6 linked regions of the Homo sapiens genome follow. The protein of the gene in region 5 interacts with the protein of the main gene of each other region in a biochemical or structural test. Each region holds a gene or a part of one and is shown on either strand. Other genes may lie near its edges. The genes, in order: MAGI3, CACYBP, FBXO8, CENPE, SKP1 and ZC3HC1.

The links.
Region 1: the proteins of SKP1 (region 5) and MAGI3 form a complex in vitro, tested with the Homo sapiens proteins (one study listed by BioGRID).
Region 2: the proteins of SKP1 (region 5) and CACYBP form a complex in vitro, tested with the Homo sapiens proteins (one study listed by BioGRID).
Region 3: the proteins of SKP1 (region 5) and FBXO8 form a complex in vitro, tested with the Homo sapiens proteins (one study listed by BioGRID).
Region 4: the proteins of SKP1 (region 5) and CENPE form a complex in vitro, tested with the Homo sapiens proteins (one study listed by BioGRID).
Region 6: the proteins of SKP1 (region 5) and ZC3HC1 form a complex in vitro, tested with the Homo sapiens proteins (one study listed by BioGRID).

What each region holds. Positions count from the first base shown.
Region 1 is NC_000001.11:113,649,015-113,652,514, reverse strand, and holds part of MAGI3 (membrane-associated guanylate kinase, WW and PDZ domain-containing protein 3), read right to left. Parts: intron 3,279-3,500; coding exon 3,187-3,278; intron 1,502-3,186; coding exon 1,309-1,501; intron 1-1,308.
Region 2 is NC_000001.11:175,006,447-175,009,946, reverse strand, and holds part of CACYBP (calcyclin-binding protein), read right to left. Parts: intron 3,203-3,500; coding exon 3,106-3,202; intron 2,850-3,105; coding exon 2,750-2,849; intron 1,339-2,749; coding exon 1,241-1,338; intron 25-1,240; coding exon 1-24. UniProt on the Homo sapiens protein: May be involved in calcium-dependent ubiquitination and subsequent proteasomal degradation of target proteins. Probably serves as a molecular bridge in ubiquitin E3 complexes. Participates in the ubiquitin-mediated degradation of beta-catenin (CTNNB1).
Region 3 is NC_000004.12:174,259,668-174,263,167, reverse strand, and holds part of FBXO8 (F-box only protein 8), read left to right. Parts: intron 1-67; 5' UTR 68-75; coding exon 76-404; intron 405-3,342; coding exon 3,343-3,469; intron 3,470-3,500. UniProt on the Homo sapiens protein: May promote guanine-nucleotide exchange on an ARF. Promotes the activation of ARF through replacement of GDP with GTP.
Region 4 is NC_000004.12:103,139,344-103,142,843, forward strand, and holds part of CENPE (centromere-associated protein E isoform 1 precursor), read right to left. Parts: intron 2,566-3,500; coding exon 2,407-2,565; intron 1,762-2,406; coding exon 1,471-1,761; intron 1,072-1,470; coding exon 913-1,071; intron 737-912; coding exon 446-736; intron 1-445. UniProt on the Homo sapiens protein: Microtubule plus-end-directed kinetochore motor which plays an important role in chromosome congression, microtubule-kinetochore conjugation and spindle assembly checkpoint activation.
Region 5 is NC_000005.10:134,163,451-134,166,950, forward strand, and holds part of SKP1 (S-phase kinase-associated protein 1), read right to left. Parts: intron 1-3,500. UniProt on the Homo sapiens protein: Essential component of the SCF (SKP1-CUL1-F-box protein) ubiquitin ligase complex, which mediates the ubiquitination of proteins involved in cell cycle progression, signal transduction and transcription.
Region 6 is NC_000007.14:130,020,375-130,023,874, forward strand, and holds part of ZC3HC1 (zinc finger C3HC-type protein 1), read right to left. Parts: intron 3,350-3,500; coding exon 3,137-3,349; intron 2,152-3,136; coding exon 1,945-2,151; intron 1-1,944. UniProt on the Homo sapiens protein: Required for proper positioning of a substantial amount of TPR at the nuclear basket (NB) through interaction with TPR.

The sequences.
Region 1 (3,500 bases), on a different chromosome or scaffold from region 5:
ACAACCAAATTGAGGCAGTACTGCATTACAATCTATATGCATTCTAAATGCCTGGTATTTACCAAAGGAGGCAGGCCTTTACTTTGAATGTTGCAATAAAAAATACAGTGCCTCATTTTTAAGAGTGATGTAAATATTCATCCAATTAACAACATTTATTAATGTCCACTTTGTACCAGACAGGCACTCTTTTAGGTGCCGAGCTTACAGCAGATAACTACACAAATAAAAATTCATACCTTCATGAGGCTTATATTCTTGTGCTACAGAGTTGTATTTTTTTAATTTTAAAGTGGAAAGAATTCACTTATAAGAATTTCTATTTAATTATTCATAAAGCTACTGGCGAGAAACTATAAGAGATATTCATATCCTAATGCTATGGTTTAAACCCTGATCTCTGAATTAAACTGCAACTTTTAATCCAGGCCCTACCTCTTACCAGTTATTTGTTTCTCAACCTTTCTCTGAGTAATCATAGAACTAGATAATGACCTCATAGTGTTGTGAAGATTAAATAAAATAATCCATGCATCTAGGACATAGTAAGCACTCAATAAATGTTAAATTATACTAAAACTTCTCAAGTAGAAACATCCTACTTTCCTTTAGTAGCTCAGATTTCACTGGGATCCAAAAATCTTTGTATATTCAGCTAGTGGGATATCTTGGTATGACTAAATAATTTTGTATTTGTTATTTAAAAAAAAACAAAACAAATTTAGGCTGGGCACAGTGGCTCACGCCTGTAATTCCAGCACTTTGGGAGTCTGAGACAGGTGGATCACTTGAGGTCAAGAGTTCGAGACCAGCCTGGCCAATGTGGTGAAACCCCGTCTCTACTAAAAATACAAAAATTAGCCGTGTGGTGGTGTGTGCCTGTAATCCCAGCTACTCAGGAGGCTGAGGCAGGAGAATCGCTTGAACCCAAGAGGTGGAGGTTGCAGTGAGCTGAGCTCATACCACTGCACTCTAGCCTGGGTGACAGAGTGAGACTCTACCTCAACTCAACAAAACAAAACAAAACCGGATTTAAATCAATACTCCCACCTATAATACATTTGCAAAATGCATCAATATATGAAAATAATCTTAATATAGAAGCCCAAAATTTATTTTTTTATAGTAGTATTATTTCTGAATCCTTTTGTGTTTGCATAGCCTTCCACAGTGAGGCCCTGGATCACACCAAATGGGTTATCTTAGATACTACTGAATGTAATAAAATAACCTGCAAAACTACACAGGAAGTAGACTAGTATCTTTGTTTCTTTTTTAACTTTTCAGAGCAGGAACAAGTTCACACACCTCCATAGAAGATCTTCCGTCTGACAGTTAGTAACACATGGCCATTTCGAGCAGCAGTTGTCATGAGGTCCAAGACTTGTTTGTGTGATTTCCCTTTAACAGGAATTCCATCAATGCACATTAGTTCATCAGCTGCGCGGAGCCGACCATCTTTCTCAGCTGCTCCCAGGGGAATAATAGCCCCAATATATATCTGATAAGATAACAAAGTACAGTTTGGTCCACAGTGTAAAGTTTAGCTGAAGAGTTAAGGAATTCCTAACTTAGCATTGTGCAAACCAACAGATTTTTGCAGTTCAACTATGAAAACAGTTATATTTTAGAAAGGTATTATCTGAGAAAGTGCCCATTCTCCAAAATGGCACTTCAAATAACCACATTGTATTATGTAATCCCTTATAGATCCTCAGGGCTGTGTACAAAGAAAATAGAAAATACAAAGTTGTTCGATAACTCAAAAAGCACAACCATTATCCCTATCATTACAATGAAACAAAACACTAAACTCAGAAAATATAAATCTGCAGAGTAGCTATTAAAAGTCTGTTCAATGTCATCAGGCAAGATTTTCTACATACTGTTCACAGCAACTGGGATCATTCTCAACAGTACTCCCATCACATATGACTAACGGTACAAGTTCAATATACACAGCACAGAGACATTTCTTGTTTCTAAATCTCAGCGGGAACAGAGTGGCCTGAAGCTTCACTTGCATCTAGGTGAACAAATCTGGTTCATTTTGCTCACCAGCATTAGAATCCTGTAATTAGGCAATCCTGAATGTTTAGGCTAGTTTCAGAGCTGCTAAAATCTGACATTTAAGAGAAAAGAAAGGTTTCTTCTAAGTTGTTTGAGACAAATTCTTAAAATGTCTAAGTGAACATTATGAGTATCAACAAAATAGGAAGCAATAAAACAAAAATACAAATACCAAGAACAATTAAAGTATCTAGTATTTGTTCTACATAGGGCAACCTGCCTTAAGCTTTATGTGTCTCCAATGACTGTTGTAACTGTAACCAATATGACCAATTAGAACAAATTTATACTACATAAATCAAATGTTCTATTCAGAAATAAGAAGCCTGTAATTTTTAAAGATTATTGTTCTTCACCTAACTTCCAACCATATTTTTTGATATATAATATATTGATATTATATAAAATAAAATGCAAATATGTTCTTAAAAATGCTACAGAACACATTACTTCTTTGTTATTCAAACCAAGAGCAAAACTTAGAAACAAAACCCACTACATTTGTTCTCTAAAACAAGTTTATGTGAGAATCATGTGTAAACAAAATCCTAGACTTCAAATGCTTTGCAAATATAACCCTTATGCCTCTGGACAAAAATATTAATTATTTTATATTCCTCTAGTTTCAAAGGTAACAGATGAAATGACATGCAAAGTACTGAGCATGAAAATGCCAACCTATTAATAAGACGAGGTGAAACAATATGCACAGGCTCATGCCAACCATTTATGGAGCATCCAGAAGATAGAGTAATAGTGGGAAAGAGGACATGGGATTATAGGCTTCTTAGAGAAGGAAAATGTCTTAGACTCTGTTTAATGAGGGCAAAGGAAAATATAAACTTAAAATAAGCTTTATGTAGTTATTCACACAGAGAAGTAAATAAATTAATCACTGTCTAATTTGCAGCTGACATATTCAGTTTTTACCCACAGTTTTTAGCCTCAGCTACACCACAATAACTGAGGGACTATGATAATAATGGAAATGCAGTTATTCTTCATATTAATGAAACTGTCAGAGAAAAAAAAACTTAAAACACACCATAATCCACCAAATCACCACTCAAAACGTTTGAACAGGAAACAGCCATGTTCCAAAGAAGTGACACTTACAGACTGGTCAGGTCCATCTCCTCCTAGCACCCTGAAGCCAAACCCTGACTCTTGTTTTCGAAGAAAAACATCCAAATCTTTGGTGTTTGGTGCTGAGGAAAATCAGAAAATATAAATACTATGATTTATTTTAAAAGGATTAAAACAAAACAAAGTTCAGTATTTAGTAGGATATTATAGAGTAACTCAATAAACTATAATCTCAGAACTTTTTAATATGGAAAATTTGCACAAGAGTGTAACACACACACACAATTCAACTATAAATCCTCGTTTTGAGCTCTAAACAAAACTGTATGAAGACTGTTTAGAAA
Region 2 (3,500 bases), on a different chromosome or scaffold from region 5:
GTTTCAGTGTCATAGGAGGGCTTCCTTTAAAAAGAAAACATATACAACAATGGGGAAACGAAAGCACCGGAAGATACTATCATTCAGGTTGTTAACACTGGCAGGAAGTAGAGGGATAAGAAGGAAGACAGAGTACCCAAAGATATTTACAATCAAAACGGCACGCACAAATTCATCTTAATGAAAACAACACACACGTATCAAGCATGCACACACTTGGTGCACGAAAGAGGTCATCAAAATAGTTAGGGGCTATTTTTAGGCACAGGGATTTCCCATGATTTTTTTTTTTTTTTTTTTTTTGAGACAGTCCTGCTCTGTTGCCCAGGCTGGAGTGCAGTGGCGCATCTCGGTTCACTGCAACCTCCGCCTCCCAGGTTCAAACAATTCTGTCTGCCTCAGCCTCCCGAGTAGCTGGGATTACAGGCACATGCCACCATGCCCGGCTAATTTTTGTATTTTTAGTAGAGACAGAGTTTCACCATGTTGGCCAGGCTGGTCTCAAACTCCTGACCTCAGGTGATCCGCCCGCCTCAGCCTCCCAAAGTGCTAGGATTACAGGCGTGAGCCACCCCACCTGGCCTCCTGTGATTTTTGACAGGTAAAATAAGAATTTGATTTTCTAACTTGTTTTCATTTTTTAAAAGCATGTTTCCTCATAATTTGAAAAAAAACACTTGAGGGAAAATCATAAACATTACACATGGATGTACCCTGAAGCTCATGTATTTTTTAATTAGAAAAACTCTCCTCTTAAGCCTGAGATACACAGATCTGGGCCTGGGTCTTGAATTAATTTAGTCAGTACCTTTAGAAGATGAACTGACCTAGAACGCAAGTATCATTGAATACACATTTTTAAAAGGTCATTATTAAGAAGGATAAAAATATTTTATCTTTTTCACTATAAACCAGTGACAATGAAAACTACGCATCAGAAGCATCTGAGAAATTTAAAACATACAGGGGTACCTAAGCCCCTCTCAAACTACCGAAACAGAGTATCTGGGAATGGGCACAGTTATTTGTATAGAAGCACAACTGCGCCTAGGGTTAAGAACCACACTAAAGAGCCAACCCTTAACTACAAAGACCTTAAAAAGCAACTTGCTGGACGTGCCCTCTTCAGGTAGTTTGACAGTTGAAAGCAGAAATACATTATCCATAAAGACAAACTATTAAAAATCCATGATCTCAAACAATACACTAAAATTCTTTAAAAAAATGGAAGTAGACTCACTCTTTTTCTTTGCACTCCTTTTCAACCTGGGTCAGGTAATCCCACCTTGTGTTTTCCACTTTCTTTCTACACAATATAAGAACTGTATCAGTCTTGACCTGGAAGAAAAGCAGGAAAACAAATACAGCTTAGAAGACATGGAGATAAGCATGAATATTTATAAAACAATTATCTATTCAATTGATCAAGTCCCTAGTATGTATAGACTTATTTTGGGTGCCAGTAATACTTGTATGAATAGGCCAAAATCTGAACATTCATGGTGTGAAAAGACCATAAATAAGTAAAACTTGAATACCCTGATATCCTGGAAAGTGCTATCAAGACAAAGCGGGTGTTAATGGGGGGTGGGGGCAGGAACTTCATTAGGAAGGCCTCTCTGAGGCAAATCTGAGCCGAAGCCTAAGGTCAGGAGAAGGCAGTTGGCAGAGCATGCAGAATGGCTCCAAGATGGGATCATCTTGGTGTGTTTGAGGAGCAGGAGGAGTGGCTGGATTTTAGTGACTGAAAAAGACAGTAATATAATAAGAGGGGTCGGGGATAGGCAAGAAACCAAGTCGTATAAGGCAGTATGGGGCAAGGTGAGGCATTTGAAAGTGAGAAAGAAGGGCAATGTACAGGTCTTTTAAACAATGATCAATACTAGGGATCTTTTGGTACTCTACCTATGGGACTAGCGGATGCAGAAGGGTGCAGTAAGACAGCGAATCCAACTATATTTGAGTATCACCTGTAAGCTGTTAAGTAATTATGTATTATAAAAACAGATGGCAGAATGTCATGTCTATATACCTAACGCATTAAACTTCATTTATTCACATTAGGCAGAAAACAGGGACTATCTGATTTAGTAAAAATTACAAAGAGTAGTTTTTAAAAGACAGTTTCCTTATTTTTATAGCTGCTTCTAACTCCAAGGAGGCTAAGTGCTTAAGACCTCCTTTTATGTATACGAGTATTATGCACAATGCTAACACTAGCATTAATTTAAGCACTTTACATAATGGTATTGCACTTCAGTGTATCATTTCAACTTTGTGAAATAAATTATTACTATCGCATAAATGCAGAAACTGAGGCACAGAGTGATTAAGCTGCCAAAGGTCACAAACAATAAGCTGTAAACCTGGCATAAAACTCAAGTCTCACTCTTAACTACCTTCAAACGTTTACTTCCTCCCTGATTTTAATGGAATATTCTTACAATAGCCTATTCTACAAAAGGAGTTGGCAAATGTTCTCTGTCGAGGGCCGCATAGTAAATATTTTAGGTTTCATTTAGGGCCATATGGTCTGCTGTAGCCACTTAACTCTGCCATTGTAGCACAAAAGCATCCACAAACAACACATGAACAAATAAGCCTGGCTATGTCCCAATAAAACATTCACAAAACAGGCGGTGGTCCCTGTTACAGAGGACAAATTCATTCCAGTTCATCTCAGTTCTAAATCAGCCAGGTTCAATTTGGTAAGGTTTCACAATATTACAATCAAAAAAAGCACACTCACTTTTTTTGAACTGCCTTCCACAGAGATGGGTTTCAAGAGATTGTTCACAATCATGGAGTAACTCTTCCCATTTAGATTCTTTACCAAAAGATCAAATGACCTGCAACACAATGGTGAATACATCATCTTTCTAGTTCTATGAAAGGTACCCTTACTCCATAGTTCTTGTGGGAAAAAAGCTGCTGGCTTTATTTCAGGGTGTGCATTTGGCCAGTTAACGCTCACCTCTTCAAAGTAGTTGTAAAGGATAATTAATTCTAAATTTAAGAATTTTAAAAACTGCAAAGAAGAGAGTCTCAAGATAAGGCAATGTTGACTGTTAATTCACTGTCTTTCCCATTATAATGAGAACTCACCTCTCTGTGAAATGCACCTGCACATTCTCAGTGGGAACTTGATGAACTCCAGTTAAGGTAATGTAGATTTTCACAAACTTATCTGACTGATCCCATCCTGGCAACGACAACAAAAGATGGGACGTAAGTAAGCCTCTGAAACTATCTTTAGAACAGCAAATGCACATGGCTCATAAGTCAGGAAAGTAAAATTATGAAAATCCAGTCATATAAACATGAAAAAATTTGAAATATAAGAAATTTTCTAGGTTGAGAAATGGAGCCTCAAAGCAGTTAAGTACTCTACCCAAAGCTAGGCATCTAACAAGTGGTAGAATTCAGATTCAAATCCAGGTTTCTGAATACAAAACCTATGCTCTTTTTATCCCTCAGAATAAAAATATGATCACTAAATA
Region 3 (3,500 bases), on a different chromosome or scaffold from region 5:
TTATACCACTGGGAAAAATGGGTTACTTTTTAAATGTCACCCTTATTACATTCTGGCTTTTTCCCAGGCTTGCAGATGGGTCAAGGGTTGTGGAGAGTGGTCAGAAACCAGCAGCTGCAACAAGAAGGCTACAGTGAGCAAGGCTACCTCACCAGAGAGCAGAGCAGGAGAATGGCTGCGAGCAACATTTCTAACACCAATCATCGTAAACAAGTCCAAGGAGGCATTGACATATATCATCTTTTGAAGGCAAGGAAATCGAAAGAACAGGAAGGATTCATTAATTTGGAAATGTTGCCTCCTGAGCTAAGCTTTACCATCTTGTCCTACCTGAATGCAACTGACCTTTGCTTGGCTTCATGTGTTTGGCAGGACCTTGCGAATGATGAACTTCTCTGGCAAGGGTAAGTTAAACCCACCAAAGTTGAATTCAGGTATCTCTAAACATAATCATGCTTCAATGTTCTTTTTATAATGTATATTACAAAATATTTTCTTTAAACTTGGGCTTGTACTTTGAGATGCTCTTTATTAAAACCTGGAAAAATATACAGTTAGCATCACAGTCAAATTTGATCTTGTGAAAAGGAGGACAATAGAAAATAGAATAATAACTTTACAGTTAGAAGAGAGGTTACCAATCAGGCTCTGTCAGTTGATTATAAGTCAGAAACTCTCACTTTATTCTGAAAATACCGCAAAGTTGTGGAGTGAGAATTTCTAATTTAAAAGTTGGAGTGTTCACATGCTGTGTAGTTTGTGCTTCCCATAGGATACCTGCCATCTGAATAATAGGCAGACTTCGAAATCAATGAATAGTCCTCAAATGTTACTGTTTTTAATTTTCTTCATATAGAGCCTTACATTTTTACTCAATTCTATATTTCTTCAAAGGTGCTTGTTAGAATAAAATTTAACTGGTGAAAATTTTATCTACTTTTTTTTTCTAACCAGCATTTCAATGAAGTAGGCAAATATTAGAAAGCAAGGGGACAAATAGTTGTTTTTATTTACTTGCTGAACTTAGATTACATAAATTTCCACATTGTACTAGTCTGAATTAAAACCACAAATCTAAGAACATTTGCTGGAATAGAATCTGTTTTATTGAACCTAAGTTACTCCTTAAATAGCATCATATACTTTAACAAAAAGTATAGGTACATGATTTTTTGGCCTAAAAATATTACCAAACATGGAATCATTGGATCTCAGACCTTCTAGCATCCTTTACCAAAGTTTATTTGTCTTATTATCTTGAAATAGGTCTTTATAAAAATATAGACTATAACTAAAAACAAATATCTTTTTAAGACTTCCTATAATTTCAAACTAGAAATCTAATTGAGAGACTTAATAAATTACAAACTTTAGTCAAAATATATTTTCAGTAATGACATTCCTAAATTAGGCTTTCTGATGTCACACAGTTCTAGTACAAGTTATATAGGTCATTTCTCAACCTCTAAATAGATAAAAATCATCAATATCATATCTTGTTATTCTTTTACTCATTTGTTTGACATAGTGAAAGTACTACGTGAGAGGAAATTCTGTTAATGAGGAGTCTTTAAAATAAATGTTATTAATTTTTTACTCATGAATAGAAGAGGAAATGAAAGTACTTTTAAACTGGCTCATTCTTTCTAATCTCTTTTCTACATTTTAGTATTCCTTACTAACTTAATTTCTGTTTGTTTGAACTTTTTTTAAAAGTTTAATTTCTAGCCTTACCTGAAGTCAACCAGAATGTATTCTTCATTTGGGGTTTAAATCTGAATTTTTCATTTGTGAAAGAAATATTTGCCATAATTATGCCTATTTTTATAATACTTGGATTTTTTCCTTAATAATAAATTGCTTCTATTTGAAATTAAAGGCTGGCTTAGTTTTAATTTCAACTTTGGATGTATTGAATACTCATTGATGTTGGGAAGTTCTCTGGTTTTCACAAAGCTTAGTAATAAAACTCTAGTTTTGGGTTTTATTGGGACTAGATTAATAAGACTGAAAAAATATTGATAATATTCTAAACAATTTTTTATACTTACAGTTTTGAGTCAGTGATTTCATTTGGTGGGTAAAAATAATGCAGCAGTATAAATCAACTACTAAGAGGGTAGTCTCATGTTAAATTAGATATTTTACCCCCTTGTCCTCACAATTTTTGATGTTATATGCTCAGACAGTAACTTTTTCTTGTTGCTCTGCACTTTGTGTGTTTATTAAAAGAAGGAAATCTGAGGCAGAAATTAATAATGAATATAAGAAAGTAAACAGTTTCATTTGTCTCAACAAGTAGCAGGTGTTTTTGAATACACAACAAATCAGATAATTTTGAGACAAAGACTCATCACAATTGTATCAGAATATAATTTCAGTATTCTCTGTTTCTCTAGAATAATGCATTTATATTTAAGGCTTTTTGGTGGATATCCAGAATTTCCAGGCATTATAATAAGATAAAACATTAACTTTCAAATAACCAGTAGCTATTGCCTCTGTGAAGAGTTAGAAAGTATCCCAATCTGCAGTGTGTTTTGAGATATGAACTGTTAGTATTTTCGGTTTTATAGAATTTCTAAACAATCATGTATCACTCTGATAATAAAGAACTAGTGTTTTTGAAGCAGTATCTTAAAAACAGCTATGTTGAACATCACAGCTTGATGAATGTATTCAAGTTGTGGCATTACAAACAATTTCTGTATTTAATTTGTCTGTTGTAACGTGTATTATTTGAAAAACAAAAGCTGTTTCCCTGCCCAGCATTCTTTTCCTCCCATTTAGTTTTATTTCACAATAGAGCACATAGGTTAGTTAATAAACCCTATTTAGATTCTTGGTTAATAATTGCAAGCTGTGGATTACTCATTGGGTTGAAATCCTGCATCTGTACATATTAGCCGTATGATCTTGGGCAACTGTTTTGTCTGTGTTTCTTATCTGTATCACCAACGTCATAGGATTGTTGTGAAGATTAGGCAGGCTAATCCAATTAAAATACTTGAAATAGGGTCTGACATCTAGTAAGTATTCAGTAAATGTTAGCTATTATTACTATTATTAGGAATAGTTTATGTTTAACTTCAGATAGTACTCATGAATATTATTAATCTCTATAACTCACATTTATTAGATGCTGTCAAAATTGCTAAATTTAAAGCATCTGTCATACTCTAGTAAACAAATAGAAAACAAGTACAAACTTAAAAATTTTAAACTTTAGAACTATAAAATTCAATCTTATTTCATGTTACTATTTTTGCATGTATATGCATATTTAACTTAGGAAATTAAATGTAGTAATGTTTTCTTGTCTCATTTTCTCTGATTTTATAGGTTGTGCAAATCCACTTGGGGTCACTGTTCCATATACAATAAGAACCCACCTTTAGGATTTTCTTTTAGAAAATTGTATATGCAGCTGGATGAAGGCAGCCTCACCTTTAATGCCAACCCAGATGAGGTTAGTGAAGAACTTGAATATTTGTATCCAG
Region 4 (3,500 bases), on a different chromosome or scaffold from region 5:
TAGTCATACCAGAGGAACTTAATTTTTATATTTATCTTCCCTTTTTTCCTTTTAACTTCACCAATAAGAGCCCAACTCTAGAACTCCAGCATGTATAGGTAGAGAAATGGGAATATTTGCTCTCTTACAAATCTAATCCTTCAAATATTTCTCCATTTAGAATAATGCTATCTCTTGATTAAAAAAAACTTTAAAATGTTATATTAAGGGAAATAGACTGCTTTAACACAGTTTATAAAAATAAAGAATTAAATGTTATTTTCTGAAAATATTTTTGCTTCTTTTAAAACTGTTTTCTATTGTGTAAAAATTAGAGTAACCATTTCCCACTGTCCTTTACTGTTCATAGGAATTTCCAGAGAAAGAAATAAAAACATTGTAATTCTTTTCAAAAAAGCTTAATTCTTATTAATAGTTACTACACAAAGGAAGACTCTGAACTCACTCTAGCTATCATTTCCCTTAAGGTTGCTATGAATTGGTCCCTTTCCATTTTGAGAGATTCTTTTATCCTCCTTAGCTCATCTCTTTCTTTAGCTACAATTCTTATTTCTTCAAGGCTTTCATGAAGTTTCTTAGTCAACTGGAAGTTATCCATTCTCACACTTTGCATAGATAAGTTTTGGGCCTCAAATTGCTTCTTCAACTGTTCCATTTCATTAATTTTTTTATGACTCATATTGACATCTTCTTTCACTCTAAGCAGTTGAAGTTCTTTTTTCTGAAGTTCTTGGATCTTGAGATAATTGTAAAACAAGTTAGAATGTAAGCAGTTTCTTCAAGGAAGGCAAATAGTGTCTACTTGTGTTCTATATGCACATATCTATCTACATATCTGTATCTATATCTTTTTAATTCCACAAATAATTTTGGGCACAGTTACTTCCAAAAGAAGAACAAAACAACACATACCTTTTTCTGTAATTCATCTTTTGATTTATCTAAATCCTTTTGAATGTCTGAAATTTGAATTGTCTTTTCTGAAATTTTTTCTCTAAGTTTATCAACAGTTTCTTTGTGTTCTTTTGATAGCATACGAGCAGTTTTTAGTTCCTGTTGTATTTCCAGATCCTTTATGGTTAGAAGAAATCAAGAAATGTAATGATATAAAGGCACGTTACCTTTACTTAATGATTGAGTTTAAACAAAATCTTAAAAATTATACACTCACAGTTAAAAACAACCATTATACAACCTCCTAAATTAGAAGAGTAAAGTAAAATTTTCTGCTGGTAGCCTCACCCATAGCCTTCTCCTTTCATACCACTTGGACATCTTTCTAAATCAATATCACAAAAAGAATACCCCATTCTTATGCTTAGTTTTCCATTATACAGATAGTGCCTTATTATTGGTGGACACTTAGATTATTTCTAGGTTTTAGTCACCAGACACAACGCTGCAGTGAACACTGTATTTTTGCCCAAATATGTGAATATAATGGTAGGGTAAAGAGAGAACACAACTCACTCTAGCTTTGGTTTCTTGCAGGCTTTCCTTGAGTTGGTCTCTCTCCAGTTTGAGTGTCTCCTCTACTCTTCTTAGATTATCTCTTTCTTTCATTACAGATTTCATTTCTTCAAGGTTTTCATGAAGTTTCTGAGCCAAATTTAAATTCTCTATTTCTAATTTACTCAGAGTTAAGCTTTGGTCTTTTATTTGTTTCTTTAGTTGCTCCATTTCAGACACTTTTTTCTGTGTCTCATTGACATCTTTTTTTAACGTAATAAGTTGATGTTCATTTGCCTTAAGTTCTTGAATCTTAAGATAATCATAAAATAATATGTTAGGTGGCTTTTTAGGGACAGATAAATAATAGTTTCTAAATTGATTAAGACAACTGTCTACCCATGTTACTCTCACTGATATCCTGCACAATTCCACACAGAATTTTACTTTCTTTTGAGGTATAATATATATAAAGCATGCTCATCTTCAATGTATAACTTAATTATTCTTGACACAGGTGTAAATCTATGAAACTACAACCCAGATTAAAACAGAGAATATTTCTAGCACTTCATAAAGTTTCTGTGTGCTCCTTCCTAGAGACAGCCACTATTCTGACCTTTATCATCCTGGTTCAGTTTTGCCTGCTTTTGAACCTATATATCACAATGTATGTATCCATTTTCCTGCTGATAGACATTTGAGTTTTCAGTTTTTTGTTATTTTGAATAAGGCTGCTATAAACATTCTTGTGTCTTTTTATAGAAGTATGTACGTACTCTTTTCTCTTATGTACATACCCAAGAAGTGGAAATGTTGGGCCTCAGGCAGGCTACATCCAGCATTAGTAAATACTGCCAAGGTGTTTTCCAGTGTGGTTGAACCATTTTATATCCCCAACAATTTTAGGCACAAACAAATTAGATATCCAATCAAACAATCCCCCCATAAAAATACCTTTTCTTGTAATTTAGCATTTGAATTTTCTAAATCTTTTTGCATATTTGATAGTTTATCTGTCTTCTCAGAAACAATTCCTCTGAGTTTGTCAATAGTTTCCTGCTGCTCTTTCAGATGCATGTGAGCAATTCTTAGTTCCTCTTGTATTTTCAGATCCTTTACCATTAGAGAAATTTTAAAAACAGTGACATATCTTAATATTAGTTTTTAAAAAATAAAGTGATATATTTTCTTAGTAAAAATAATAACACTGTTACTCTATATCTTTGCTGTTGTTTTTAAGGTACAGGCTTTCTCTTCCCTGTCCTCCTCTCTTCACACTCTACTTCTGCTTTCCAGAGGCAAACACATTACACATATATTACTTTTTTTAAGTGTTGCATAGTATTTCGATATATTGTTCATATTTACTGTTTCCTTCTGAGGAACATTTAGATTGTTTCAGATTTTTAATTAAAATCACTACAATAAATAACCTGTGGCATATGTATACGTTGTGTTTGTATATACACACACACTCCTTTAACAGTATATATGTAGGCTAAAGTCCGTAAGGAAAATGATAATTGCAGACTTGAACTTTTCAAGAACAGTACCAAATTATCTGCTTAAAAGGCTGTATCATTTCATTCTTGCCAACAGTAGTACTTGGTTCAAAGAAGGGTTCATTGCTGTAAGAACACAATACATTGAATTGCCAGGGAGAGGAATGAGCTTACTTTAGCTTCTATTTCTCTAAGGCCTTCCCTAAGTTGGTCTTGCTCCATTTTAAAGATTTCCTCTACTCCTCTTAGGCCATCATTTTCCTTAGTAACAAATCTTACATCCTGAAGGTTTTCATGAAGCTTCTGAGTCAATCTTAATTTCTGCGTTTCTACACTTTCCAGAGTTACATTCCAGGCCTCTAACTGCTTCTTTAACTGACCTGTTTGATACATAGTTTCCCTAAGATCATTTTTTACTTTAAGAAGTTGAGGCTGGGCCTGGCGGCTCATGCCTGTAATCCCAGCACTTTGGGAGGCCGAGGCGGGTGGATCATGAGGTCAGGAGATCGAGACCACCCTGGTCAACACGGTGAAACCTCCTCTCTA
Region 5 (3,500 bases):
CTTCAAAATATGATATATATTCAATACAAACAGGCTTAAAAAAAAAAAAAACTTCTCGGCTGGGTGTGGTGGCCCACACCTATAATCCCAGCACTCTGGGAGGCCAAAGGAGACAGATCGCTTGAGCCCAGGAGTTCCGGACTAGCCTCGGCAACATGGTGAAACTCCATCTCTACAAAAAATACAAAAATTTGCCAAGTGTGGTGGCATGTGCTTGTACTCCCAGCTACTCGGGAGGCTGAGGTGAGAAGATCACCTGAACCCGGGAGGTAGAAGGTGCAGTGACCCATGACTGCACCACTGCACTCCAGCCCAGGCAACACAGTGAGGCCCTATCTCAAACAAACAAACCAAACAAACAAAAAAACCCCAAAAACCAAGCACTTCTCATTCTCAGAAGTGGCCCTACATCACCCAACCCTTTAACTCTGACCTTATCTACTCACTTCTTGCTCTAGCTTCCACTAAACTCCTTGCCTTTCCTAAAAAGGCAGGGCATGCTCTTGTCTTAAGGTCACTGTACTTGCTCCCAAATCCCAGAATTCTTTTCCCCCAAATATTCACGTCTTTGTTTAAAAGATTATCTTCGGCCAGGGATGGTGACTCAAGCCTGTAATCCCAGCACTTTGAGAGACTGAGGCAGGCGGATCACCTGAGGTCCGGAGTTCGAGACCAGCCTGGCCAACATGGTGAAACCCCATCTCTACTCAAAATACAAAAAATTAGCCGGGCGTGGTGGCGCGCGCCTGTAATCCCAGCTACTGAGGCTGAAGCAGGAGAACTGCTTAAAGCCCGGAGGCAGAGGCTGCAGTGAGCCAAAGTTGTGCCACTGTACTCCAGCCTGGGCAACAAGAGCAAAACTCCATCTCAAGAAAAAAAAAAAAAAAAAAAAAAAAAAAAAGATTATCTTCTCAGTAAGACATCTCCTGACCATCTTTATTTTAAAAACAGCTAACTGTTCACCTACTCACCCCTTTAAATTCCCCATTCCCTTCTTTATTCTCCATAGTTTTTCCATTTGATGTATTTCTAATGTTGCATATTCCCCACCCCTTCAGACCATAAACTCCATAAGGGCAGAGATTTTGTCTCTTTGGTTCACTGCTATACCCCCAGCTTTTGGATGGCATTTGAATGTACCAGGCATTCGACTACAAGCAAAGATCCTTTTAGAAACATTTTTCATTAGTATAAAATAGAATACGTTAATTGCAAGACATATTCAGAAGTCATAAAGAATGAGATCTAACTAGATAAAATAAAGCCTCTAAATCGTAACATGAATTAACGTAAGACAAGCAAACTGGTAGAAACTTTTAAAGAGTTCTTATAAAAAGCCTATTAGATAATACCACTGAATTGTCACTTAAAAATGGTTAAGGTGGTAAATTTTGTTATGTGTATTTTACCACAATTTTTTAAGCTCATTAGACAACAACATGGATGAACCTTGAAAACATTATGCTAAGTGAAATAAGCCAGATACAAAAGGACTAATATTGTATGATTCCATATATTATGTATCCAGGATAGCTAAATTCAGATACAGAAAGTAGAATAGTGTTTACCTAGCGTAATTTTTTTTTTTGAGGGGGGAGGGTGTACCAATTTTTTTTTTGAGGGGGGAGGGTGTACCGAAATTGGAAGTTACAGTTTAATGGGTACAGAGTTTCAGTGTGGGATGATAAAGTTCTGAAAATGCTTAGTGGTGATAGCTGCACAACACTGTGAATGTAATTAATGTCACTGAATGGTGCACGTTCAAAAAGTGAAAATGATCAATGTTATGTATATTTTATCACTATTTTTCTAAGACCATTAGGAAAACAGAGAAATGAAAACAGACAATGCAGAAAATGTAAATGGCCAGTAACACATGTAAAAACATTCACACTTTGGGAGGCCAAAGCAGGCAGATCGCCTGAGGTGAGGAGTTCAAGACCAGCCTGGCCAACATGGTGAAACCCTCATCTCTACAAAAATAAAAAAATTAGCTGGGCATGGTAGCGGGTGTCTGTAATCCCAGCTACTCGAGAGGATGAGGCGGGAGAATCACTTGAACCCAAGAGGCAGAGGTTGCAGTGAGCTGAGATCGTGCCACTGCACTCCAGCCTGGGCGACAGAGTGTCTGTCTCAAAAAAAAAAAAAAAAAAATGCCAGGCTCGGTGGCTCATGCCTGTAATCCCAGCACTTTGGGAGGCCAAGGTGGGCAGATCACAAGGTCAGGAATTCAAGACCAGCCTGACCAACATGGTGAAACCCCATCTCTACTAAAAAATACAAAAATTAGCCAGGCGTGGTGGCGAGTGCCTGTAATCCCAGCTACTTGGGAGGCTGAGGCAGGAGAATTGCTTGAACCTGGAAAGTGGAGGCTGCAGTGAGCCGAGATTGTGCCACTGCTCTCCAGCCTGGGCAACAGAGTGAGATCAAAAAAACAAACAAACACAAAAAAATTCAGGTTAGCCAGGCATGGTGGCTCCACCTGTAATCCCAGCACTTTGGGAGGCCAAGGCAGGGAGATCGTCTGAGGTCAGGAGTTGGAGACCAGCCTGGCCAACATGGTGAAAACCTGTCTAATATAAAAATTAGCCAGTGTGGTGGTGGGCATCTGTAATCCTAGCTATTCGGGAGGCTGAGGCAGGGAAAATTACTTGAACCCGGAAGGCAGAGGCTGCAGTGAGCTGAGATCACACCACTGCACTCCAGCCTGGGCAACAGGGCGAGGCTCCATCTCAAAAAAAAAAAAGATGCTATATATTAACTAACATAGACATATCACCTTTCATTTTGTTATATGGAAAAAAAAAAACATAGAAATGTATAGTTTGCTACCTTAAGAATGGGGGAGAATGCTGGGCGCGGTGGCTCACACCTGTGATCCCAGCACTTTGCGAGGCTGAGGTGGGCAGATCATGAGGTCAAGAGATCAAAACCATCCTGGCCAACATGGTGAAACCCTGTCTCTACTAAAAATACAAAAATTAGCTGGGCATGGTGGCGTGTGCCTGTAGTCCCAGCTACTCAGGAGGCTGAGGCAGGAGAATCACCTGAACCCAGGAGGCAGAGGTTGCAGTGAGCCGAGATCATACCACTACCCTCCAACCTGGCGACAGAGCAAGACTCTGGTCTCAAAAAAAAAAAAAAAAAAAAAAAAAAGAATGTGGGAAAAAAATATACTTACTTGTTAATACCTGTATTACAAAATACTGAAAGGATAAATTGCTACCTGAAAGGGGACTGGAATAGATAAGGACAGAAATGGGAACAAAGTGTTACATATTCCTTTGACTTTAGCCGTTTCAAAATTATAAATCTAAGAAAGACAGTCACGATTCAATTCCACCATGCTCTAGAAGTGGTATCTTTACAGAAGACTATTTAACAGTATCTATCAAAATTTAGGTATATAAGCCAACCTGCGATCCAGATATTCTACATGTAGATCATCCTTCCTAGGGAAGTGTTTGCATAGGTAGACACAGTACAGATGCCCAATAAAT
Region 6 (3,500 bases), on a different chromosome or scaffold from region 5:
GCCTCAGCCTCTGGAGTACTGGGATTACAGGTGCACACCAACAGTCCTGGCTAATTTTTGTATTTTCAGTAGAGATGGGGTTTTGCCATGTTGGCCACGCTGGTCTCGAACTCCTGACCTCAGGTGATTCCCCTGCGTCAGCGTCCCAAAGTGCTGGGATCACAGGCATGAGCCACTGTGCCTGGCCTCGGTATATACTTTTTTTTTTCGAACATCAGGATCCTTTACCACACAGTCTCATTAAGCTTTCTAGCTTCGTCACAGCAGCTGTCAGAAGGTTAAGACACACTACCGAAAAAAAAAGTCCTGGAATCCAGGGCCAATTATGAGGCCAACTTTTCCCACTACAAAACAAAAACAAAACCCATAGGCTTTCTTTTTCGTATGGCAGTGACAGAGAGGAGTCTTACTGAAAACTGCCAATGTACTAGTTCCTGAAGATCTAGGCAGAGAAATGCGGATTTTTTTTTCTGTGAAAACTTGGAAAACCTTCACCTGCATATTTACTAAGGGTACTAATATACATTTATTTTTATTTTATTTTTTTTTGAGACAGCGTCTCTCTCTGAAGCCCAGGCTGGAGCGCAACCTCGGCTCACTGCAACCTCCGCCTCCTGGGTTCAAGTGATTCTCCAGCCTCAGCCTCCCCAATAGCTGGGATTACAGGCGCCTGCCACCACACATGGCAAATTTTTTTTTTTTTTGTATTTTGAGTAGAGACGAGGTTTCACCATGTTGGCTAGGTTGTCTCAAACTCTTGACCTCAGGTGATCCATTCGCCTTGGCCTCCCAAAGTGCTAGGATTACAGGCGTGAGCCACCACACCCAGCCATGCAATTTTGGACTTTTAGCATTACTATAGTTCCCTCCAGTGGAATCCTGTAACCCTAGAAAACCATGAATCTAGGAGTGCTGCTCATAAATATCTGCTGACAAGTATTATTTTACTTTGTCCTTGAAAGTTATAGACTACGATCAGAAATTGTTACCAGCTACAAGGAAAATTTGGGAGTGAGCCAGCGAAGGAGAGAACCCAGTTTTCATGGTTCCATATTACCCAGCCTATCACTTCCAATCTTTACACAGAGCAAACACTTGACTTTTCTTCTCAGTTGTCACCCACATTTGTAACCCACAGCAGTTATGGCTGCAATGGCTAGCAGAGTCACAGTCTGGGCTGTGGAACAGAGTAAAGTAATGTGCCCAGCGTGCGGAATGAGGCCATCATCTTGGTGTCAGAGCCCAGTGCTCCAAACAGCTAAGTTAACTGGCCAGGCTCCAAGTGCAAGTGACAGCAAATGAAAGAAAAAGCAGCTGTCTGCAACATGAGGCCGGAGCAGCTGCCTGTTCATCTATTTCTGTTTCCGTACTCCTTTTCTACTTGGAGTCACTTTATTTAGGAGAACAAAAGAATTTATCAGAACTTGACGGAATGCCATATGCTAAACTACAGAAAGACGAACCGGTTCTATGCCTAATCCCTAGGACGAAAGCAGAATGAGTCTAACTTGACGTATAAGCCGGGCACGGTGGCTCACGCCTGTAATCCCAGCACTTTGGGAGGCCGAGGCGGGGGGATCACCTGAGGTCAGGAGTTCGAGACCAGCCTGGCCAACATGGTGAAACCCTGTCTATTAAAAATACAAAATTAGCCGGGTGTGGTGGTGGGCGCCTGTAATCCTAGCTACTTGGGAAGCTAAGGCAGGAGAATCGCTTGACCCAGGAGGCGGAGGTTGCAGTGAGCTGAGATCGTGCCATTGGACTCCAGCCTAGGCAACAAGAACGAGACTCCATCTCAAAAAACAAACAAACAAACAAAAAAACCCAAATAACTTGACGTATGAAAGCTGAAGGCAGGCGGGGTGCTAATTATAGGCCCAGCCTCTGCTCCACCTCCCATAAACAGCAAGTGCTGCCCACACACAAGGCAGTGGCGTATCTCACCATGGAGTCCGTTTCAGCTGGCTGGCTAGACTGTTTGTGCGCCAAGAGGATGGTCAGCACTGCTTTCCAGCCTGGCTCTGCTGGGGCGCTGGCATCTGGTTCAGTTCCACCATTCTCCCTGCTTTCTTTGCCAAGTGTGATATTCACCCAAGGGCACCAGTCTCTATGCTGAGAGGTGGGATCAAAGAAGCTTCGGGAAGATGTGTCCTGAGGAAGGAGAAAAAGAAATAGCATTCATAGGTAGATGCTATGTAAGTTCAGGGAGGCACTGCTGTTAGTTATCAAGTCCAGAATCTCACAACTACCCATACTTCGAGTGTTTATGCTCTCCTTCAAACTTTGCCTACACATTTTCCTCTCATTTTCTTTATTTTTTCACTCCTTTTGTGTTAAACAAACTATACCTTATCACAAGGGATAAGGGATACCCAACCCCCAGGCCATGGATGGGTACCAGGTCGCACAGTAGGAGGTGAACAGCAGGCGGGCAAGCAAAGCTTCATCTGAATTTACAGCTGCTCCCCATTGTTTGCATTACCACCTGAGCTCTGCCTCCTGTCAGATCAGCAGTGGCATTAGATTCTTATAGGAGCAGGAACCCTACTGTGAACTGCACATGAGAGGGATCTAGACTTCGGGCTCCTTATGAGAGTCTGACACCTCATGATCTGTCACTGTTTCCCGTCACCCCCAGATGAGATCATCTAGTTGCAGGAAAACAAGCTGCAGGTTCCCACTGACTCTATATTATGGTGAGTTGTACAATTATTTCATTATATATTACAATATAATAATAATAGAAATAAAGTACACAATACATGTAATGTGCTCGTATCATCCCGAAACCATCCTCCCAACCGTGGTCCGTGGAAAAATGGTCTTCCATGAAAACGGTCCCTGGTGCCAAAAAGGTTGGGGACCGCTGCCAGATCAGGTTTGTCCCTGTATCACACCGTTGTTCCATTTGCCTGAAATATCTATTATTTCTCCAGAATCCACTCCAAAGGAACAAAAAGGAGCAAAAAACATGACTGACATTTTTTCCCTTTGGTCATCCAACTTTAAATTTATTCACATGGTCTACTTTTTGCATTGGACCACGGAAGGGCTCCTGCCTGCTTCTCCATGCTGCCTAGGGAGGGCCCAATATGCTGTTTATGCTCAGCCACTGCTACATGCGAGGTGGACTCACCGAACTGCTGGAGGAGCAGAGGCGAGCTCGCTTGGCTTTCCGCAGAGGGCTAGATGGTACCTCCAGGCCAGGGGTGTCTCCTGTTCCCATGCTTCGGGTCACTGGGCGAGTTCTGGTGGTGGGGCTAGCAGCCTCTGGCTCAGGACGGTCAACAGGACTGGAAGAGTCCCAGCTCCGAGTTCGAGAGACAATGGGACCAGGGCTCTTTTCAGCCTGAAGGAAAGGGGAGATAATGGAAGTACACGAATGATATTAATGATTATGGTCAGAAATACTTCTTTCTTTAATCTTTTTTCTTTTTTTTTTTGAGACAGAGTCTCGCTTTGTTGCCAAGGCTGGAGAGCAGTGAGGCGATCTTGGCTCA